3 separate regions of the Homo sapiens genome follow, and regions 1 and 2 are each linked to region 3. The links come from fine-mapping of genetic effects on gene expression. A gene starts in region 3. Each other region holds a variant in brackets. All regions are shown on one strand. Distances are between the middles of the regions. Region 1 overlaps CNTRL (centriolin). Region 2 overlaps C5 (complement C5). Region 3 holds the start of C5 (complement C5).

Region 1 (2,861 bases), 58 kb after region 3:
AAAAAAAAAACCTAAAAGCAAAGTGGAGAAACAAGACATGGCTCAATTCTTTTGGTTCTGGAGAAGACATGAGAATGAGATTAGAGAAAAAAAGGAAAAATCCCTTGGTAGGAGTGACACTTTCTCCTTCAGAAAGGAGCAAAGATATGTGCAGGTGTGGGTAGTTTTGTTGCTGTGGTGGTGGGAAAATAGGGAGTTCTTATTGATGGGGTCATTTTCTTAATTAAAGGTGAGATAATCAGGTGAGAGAGAAAATAGAAGAAAGTGTATGGGAAGTTTGAGAAGAAAGAGGAAGGTATCAAATAGCCAATTTAGAGTGTTGGGAAATGAGCCTGTCTGTTCATTTGAAATTAGTTTTAGTCTGTTTTGACCTCCAAAAATGGCAATTTCATATGGTTTGATCCAACTTGAGAAACATGGCAAGTTTTTATTAGTTTGGAATCTCCCTAACTCAATATTTATTATTCTGAAGTTTATGTTTTGGAATCATTAAAAATATTAATAATGCAAAGGAAAGTCATCTAGATAACTTTTGGGTGAAATGGTTAGACTACTTATGGTTCCTTCATGCCTTCAGATATTAATTAGGAGACTTTAATGTGCTAGGCTATTAGATCTAGTCTAGGTGAGCCAGGTAGATGTAGTTTCTGCTTTTGTGACGCTTTAGTGGGGAAAGGCAGACAGCTAAGCTATTTGATCACATTTTACTACTCCCTGTGTGACAAGGGCCAAGCAGAATTTCAGGGTAGCATGGGAGTATACCTCAGAATCATCTAACCTGGTGACAGGATAGGGCCTGGGCAGGCTTCTCAAAATTTTTTTTTAAAACTTAAGACCTGTAGGATGCAAAATAGCCCAGTAGGAGGTAGAGGAAGACAGTTCTAGGGAAAGTGTGTGAATAAAAGCCTATAGGTGAGAAGAGGCATCACAAATCTGAAGAAATGGGATAACTTTAAGAAAGCTGCAGTAGAGTATGCTTGAAGATGAGGCAGAAGAGGGAGGTTGAGTCCAAATTATGAAGAACTTTATCAGCTTTTCGCAAGCCTTTTGGATCTTATCCTAAGAGTAACAGGAAGCTGTTGAAGGATTTTAAGATAATACAGAATTTTGCAAACATGTTTGCAGCATCCTTTTAAATGTAATTACTAATGTCTGATAAAATATTGCATGTTTTTCAAAGGTCACCTAGAAAAGAACTCATTTATCAGCACACTAATTGGATTAAATACTTGGAAGTAAAGTATTATCTTTTAAAAATATCATTGAAATGATGCCTTCTTGCCTCAATTTCAAGATCAGGATAGTCTTTTTTTCCAAAACCATGGTGGCTAATTTTAAAAGTAGAATTGTATTTACAATATTTTTAGACTTTTTTCACTATTGTTTGAGAAATATTCTTACCTTTTTAAAAATAGGAAATATAATGATAAATAAACTATTAAATTTTCATTGGCAGAAGAGGTAGAAAGACTGGAAAGAGACCTAGAAAAAAAGATGATAGAAACTGAAGAGCTTAAGAGCAAACAAACAAGGTTCCTTGAGGAAATTAAAAATCAAGATAAATTGAATAAATCATTAAAAGAGGAGGCCATGTTACAGAAACAGAGCTGTGAGGAACTCAAGAGTGACTTAAACACAAAAAATGAATTGGTAAGTTCATATTTTACATTGCTTTGGCTGTATTCTCATAAGACAGATAATTCTTTGCCCTT[G/A]GGTCTAAAAATACAACTTCCTGACCATATAATGGGGAAGATGTGGTTTAACAGAAATATGTGGAAAGGCTTATGAATTGTAGTTGACTGTGTGCTAGATGATATGGCTTCCCAAAAGACTAATGCTGTCTTGAGCTGCATTATGTACTCCTAGATATTTGTATTTTTTAAAAACAACATTGTAGGTGAGGCTGTTCATTGGCAAAAACATTTAGAAGGCGATCTGGCAAAATTATCCAAAATTTTGTGAGTTATAGGTCTTTTTGGACATGGAATCCATCTTTTATTACTAAGATAAAATATAATATCTTTATGCTGATTCCCTGGTGCACGTTACTCAGCCCATTGAAAACCTTGGCAAAATGTCAGACCTTAAGACTTTCCACTATCCCAAAACTATGAACTGTAGTTGCCTAGTTTTCTCTTTTGCTTATTTATAATGTTATTGATATGTTTGTGCTGTCAATAAATGTTTTGTAAACTGTCAGAAGTTTTTGCTTTTTTTTTCTATACCTATTTTTGTTAGAAGTCAGACTGTGCTCTTCTCTATGTCATTATGTTATTTTTATCATTAACCATTTAAAAACATGTTTATGCCAGGCGCCATCGCTCATGCCTTTAATCCCAACACTTTGGGATGCTGAGGTGCAAGGATCACTTGAGGTCAGAAATTCAACATCAGCCTGGGCAACATAATGAGACCCTGTCTCTACAAAAATAAAAATAAAATAAAAACACATTTATATACAAAATTAATGTATGTTCATTGTAACAAATTTAGACAACACAACTGTATTTAGCAGAAATGAAAGTCCACTCTTCCCTACCCCATTCCCCAGATATTAATACTTTGTTTTCCATGCTTCTTATACAGTATACATGTAATTACATAATGTATATATAATTAAGCATGTTATACCTTTGAATATTTTTGTAATGAAAAAAGGAATGTTACTGTATACAGTTATTCCTCTGTATCTGTGGGGGATTGGTTCCAGGACACCCCCATGGATACCAAAATCCATGGATGCTCAAGTCCTTTATGTAAAATGGTGTAGTATTTGCAAGTGACTTTCGTACATCCTCTAGTATACTTTAAAATCATTGCTAGATTACTTATAATACCTAAGACATTGTCAATGCTAATAA
Region 2 (2,500 bases), 37 kb before region 3:
ATCTCGTGTACCCCGTAAATACTATTTACCCACATAAATTTAAAAATTAAAAAAAATTAAGAGAAAAAAAAGCCAAATCCTCCCTCCAAAAAGAAAAACAACATATGGACTAGACTGTTTATTAAAATTCTGCTTATAATAAGCAAATATTATTAGCCAGGCATGGTGGCAGGTGCATGTAATCCCAGCTACTTGGGAGGCTGAGGCAGGAGAATTGCTTGAACCCGGGAGGCGGAGGTTGCAGTGAGCTGAGACTGCGCCATTGCACTCCAGCCTGGGCAACAAAAACAAAACTCTGTCTCTCAAACAAACAAACAAACAAAGCAAAACAAATATTGGAAAACAATCTGAATCTTAGACACTGTACATCTCAATGAATATATTTCTACAAACATAAATTTTGTGGCCATTTACCAAAATTATGGTTATTAGATATTGCTTAACAATAGGGCTATGTTCTGAGAAATATGTTGTTAGATGATTTTGTTGTGTAACCATCATGGAGCGTACTTACACTAATCTAGATGGTATAACTTACTACAGATCTAGACTATATAGTATAGCCTATTTCTCCTAGGCTACAAACCTGTACAGCATGTTACTGAACAGAATACTGCAGACAACTGTAATGCAATGATAAGTATTTGTGTATCTAAGCATATCTAAACACAGGAAAGGTACAGAAAAAATACGGTATTATAATCCTATAGGATCACCGTTGCACATGTGGTCCATCATTGATGAAAATGTCATTACGCAGCACACATAAGTATAAAACAGAAGCTGTCATTTTGCTTTTGCTTGTTTTGTTAAAGACTATACATAGGCTGGGCACAGTGGCTCACGCCTGTAATCTCAGCACTTTGGGAGGCCGAGGTGGACGGATCACCTGAGGTCAGGAGTTCAAGACCAGCCTGGCCAATATGGTGAAACCCTGTCCCTACTAAAAATACAAAAATTAACCAGGTGTGGTGGCAGGCGCCTTTAATCCCAGTTACTCAGGAGGCTGAGGCAGGAGAATC[G/A]CTTGAACCCAGAGGCAGAGGTTGCAGTAAGCCAAGATTGCACCACTGCACTCCAGCCTGGGTGACAGAGCCAGATTCCTACTGAAAAAAAAAAAAAAAAAGACTATATATAAAGTCCTAAAAGTTCTGAAAACATGTTAATGAGAGTTCTATAAATTCTGGAAACATGTATTGTGGTTGAAACTGAAATAAGACATCAGCTTTTATATAAGTACACTTAACCTTAGGCTAGATTTAGAAATATTCTGCTTTATTTCATCAATGTAGATATAGACAGAATTTTTAATGGTTGTAATATCACAAAAGCGTAGACTTGTAGAACTCACAGGCATATTGGAGAGGATCTGGTCGAAGCTCCTTGCATGAGGCTCAGAGAGGATAAATAATCATTCAAGTTTATGGGATGACTTGGCTTTAAGGTTATGCCAGGTCTTAACTCTGGCCTAGTGTACTCTGCTCTGTACTGTACCTCTTCGGATGCCCAAAAATGAAGGATTTTTTTTTCTTATGGACATTTACAAGTTATCTTTTCTACTTTCAATTCTAAATAGATCATGAAAACTGCCTTTCTTAGCAGCATAAAATTACACAAAATTCCCCATATTGAGCAGAATTCTGATAGAAAATGTCATACTTACGTAGCCTTCCCAATTGCATGTCTTTATGAGAGATATTAGCACGGAGCTGGCTTGCGACGACACAACATTCAGTGAAAGCTTTGATGCATCTTGGCCCTAAACTAATCCGTGCAGCTCGCTGCTCACAGGTTTCATCATTATTAACGCAGGCTCCATCGTAACAACATTTCTTCACTACTGAATGTTTATATTTAGCAGCTGAAATGGTAATAATGCAAGTGCTCTTGATGACGCAGAGTGATAACATCTCAGGCTTAGAAGGAATCTCAAGGGATACCTGGTTTCTGTTGCTATATGATCCCCCTACCCACAATAGTTATGGCTAGTTGACTGTCCAGACTCCCCTTGGAACTATTCTAAGAATGGGGAGAATGTGACCTTACCAAATGGTCCATTCCAGCTCACACTAAATGGTTAAAGGGTTTCCTGCAATTAAGCTAAATACTAACTCTTGAAACTGGAACTTTGGGTTCTGCTGAAAATATGCAGAAAAATATAGAAAAAGAATAGAAAATGTTTTTTAAGAAAATAAGTTAAATATCCAAGAAGCCTTCAAATATTTGAAGATGGCTATCATCACTATACAAATATTTCCTTCTTCAAGCTGAATATCCTATTTTTCAAAAACTTCTTATATAACATGGTTTGTGGACTTCACCTAGTAGCATTATCCTTCATTGTAAGTGCTCAGATTAGTCAATGTCTCTCTTTTCATATCATTAGAACTTAGAATAAAGGTTAGAATTAAAATAACTCATATACAAATGGAAGAAACTATTATATTACCATAGGCATGATATTAGTTGAACTCAATTTGCTGACTCCCAGTTTGATATTCTT
Region 3 (2,500 bases):
TCTCCCACTAGAATGCAAGCTCTAGGAATTGTCTTACCGTTTGCTATATCTGCAGTGCCTATCATATGTTTAGATGCTCAATAAATATTTGTTGAATCAATCAATCAACCAATTAATTAAAGTGATTGATTGCCATGTTGTAAATGGTACACTCTGACTTCTTCAGAGAAAGTGAGGAAATAATTTTTATTAAGGGCTAGTAGAAAGAATTCAGAATAAGTCTGGACAAGAATCATGGAACCCAGGTCCTAGCCCTAGTTCTGCCACCAATTTGAAGTCACTTAATTTCAGTCTCTCTAAGCCTTAGCTGCTCGTCTTTCAAAAAGAATAAAGGCAGGATGCTAAGGTAGTTGAGTGCTTGTGGCCATGTAAAAAGATCACAGATCAGAAATACGAGGGTGCTAAAAAAGAATGACATCCTAAGTATGTGTTTATATATAATATATTTACATGTATACATTTATGACAAAATGAAAAAAATTGAAGTGATAAACAGGAGACCTTAATAAAAATCCTGTTTCTCTCTCTCTAGAACTGTGACCTTTGGTCAGTCACTTCCCTTATCTGGACTTATTCTCATATATAAAATGAATAGGTTTGATTAGATGATCTGCAGTTACTTTTCAGTATTAAAATATTTCTAGATATAAGATCATTATTTTTAAAACATTACTTAAAATGCATATTATCTCAATAATGACACTAAAAATTGTGAAAAGTCAGCTCATAAATGTATGGTAGAAGTCACTACAACAACAGATTTTCAGATCACAGTATTAGATTGACTCCTAAATAACCCTGGTTTAACTGTGTATAGTCTATGAAAAACACAAAGAAAACTAAACACCAAGTTAAAATAAGCAAAAAATGTCAAGAAAGTTTATTATCTGGAGTTTCTTTTGTGCTTTTTTGAAGAGGAATTTGAATAATCACTTAACGTAAATTTTAATAAATAACAATTCCATAAAAGCTGTCATGTTGTTAGCTACTCATCAAATCAAAATGCTTCCATGACTTTCTCATTCAGAGATGATACTATTCACTTGCTGTTCTCAGAAGTAGCAAGTTATTTTCAAGTTAACAGAATCTGTTAAATTTAACTCTTCATTCGTCATAACTAAGATGCATTGAAAAATGAAGATAGCTTGTTTTACTTACGTTTGCTCCTGTCCCCAGGTTTTCCCCAGGAAGATTAAAAAACAAAGTATTCCCAAAAGGCCCATGGTTGGAGGTAGCAGGAAACCACGGATATAACACTTTTGAGGATAGTCTCCTTTTAAATAAACTGAACTTGAAGAATTCAGATAATCTGGTTAATTATTAATGTCAGAAAGGTGAACCTCTAAGTGGGAAAACTAGAATTGGAACTAAAACACCCTTTCATGCCCAGGAATACAGATAGGGAGTACTTTACAGGAACTTACACCCAGGGAATTTATTTTTATTAATACAAATAAAGGGACCCTAAAATGGGAATTTGGCACTATGAAGAGTGGCTCAAAGCTAGAAACCAGTAAGCCCATTGCTTTGGCCTTTCTTCTCTTGCCCAGGGCATTTGCTTTGATGTTGCATCATCTGCAAGCATACATCTGGCAGGTCCACTCTAATACTGATGAAGACCCACCTGGACTCAGTTTCACACTGAAATGATTTTAGAAGGGGCCTGGTTTAGACAGGGCTCACAAGATGATCTTTTTTTGGTGACCTGAATGGCAGTGTCCTTGGTGCTGCAAATGGTCTGAGCATAACCTAGCTCTGCAAAGGAGGTCTAGGGAATTGTTCCTTGGTCTGTCTCAGTCTAGAGAACACTAGGTGGAGGAAAGTTGTGACTGGCAATGAAAACGCCATGTGGAGGATGCTGTCGTCATTCTCTAAGTATTGGAGAATAGATATTCTCCAATATTTATTAAGGCATATACCACTCGTTCAAAGTTTGTCTTTATTCAGATATAGAATATCTTTCTTTTAAAGAAAACACATGTTATACTTTTCAGTGAGGATTTTAATAATTTTAATATAAGAGCTCCAGAAAAACAAAGCTTCCTATAACAATTGAGTCTAGTAATTAATTCACAATATACTAAAATTTTATCTTTATACTTTTTTTTTTTTTTTTGGAGACAGAGTCTCTTTCTGTCGCCCAGGCTGGAGTCTAGTGGCACTATCTTGGCTCAGGGCAACCTCTGCCTCCCAGGTTCAAGGCATTCTCCTGCCTCAGCCTCCCAAGTAGCTGGGACTACAGGCATGTCCCATCACATCCAGCTAATTTTTTGTATTTTTAGTAGAGGTAGGGTTTCACCGTGTTGGCCAGGCTGGTCTCGAACTCCTGACCTCAGGTGATCCACCCACCTTGGCCTCCCAAAGTACTGGGATTACAGGCATGAGCCACTGTGCCTGGCTGATTTTTAATTAAGTTAATTTTTATGATGTTTTATGTTCATTAGAATTTTTTTATTTACTACCTTCTCTTTTTTAGTACTATTTTTACCTTAATATATAA

Evidence for each region. PIP is the estimated chance that this variant, and not a neighbour inherited with it, causes the effect.
Region 1: its variant is the best candidate, but not a certain one, in a credible set for the expression of C5 in monocytes (Fairfax 2014, PIP 0.60).
Region 2: its variant is the best candidate, but not a certain one, in a credible set for the expression of C5 in whole blood (INTERVAL, PIP 0.68).

What each region holds. Positions count from the first base shown.
Region 1 is chr9:121,106,346-121,109,206 of GRCh38, forward strand. CNTRL (centriolin) reads left to right here. Exons shown (of 44, transcript NM_007018.6): 8 at 1,457-1,650. Among named protein-coding and RNA genes, the nearest start is that of CNTRL, 33 kb to the left of the region's middle. The variant G/A (reference allele first, on the strand shown) is at 1,713.
Region 2 is chr9:121,012,213-121,014,712 of GRCh38, forward strand. C5 (complement C5) reads right to left here. Exons shown (of 41, transcript NM_001735.3): 17 at 1,661-1,858. Among named protein-coding and RNA genes, the nearest start is that of C5, 37 kb to the right of the region's middle. The variant G/A (reference allele first, on the strand shown) is at 1,023.
Region 3 is chr9:121,049,024-121,051,523 of GRCh38, forward strand. C5 (complement C5) reads right to left here and starts at 1,252. Exons shown (of 41, transcript NM_001735.3): 1 at 1,159-1,252. The coding sequence starts at 1,223.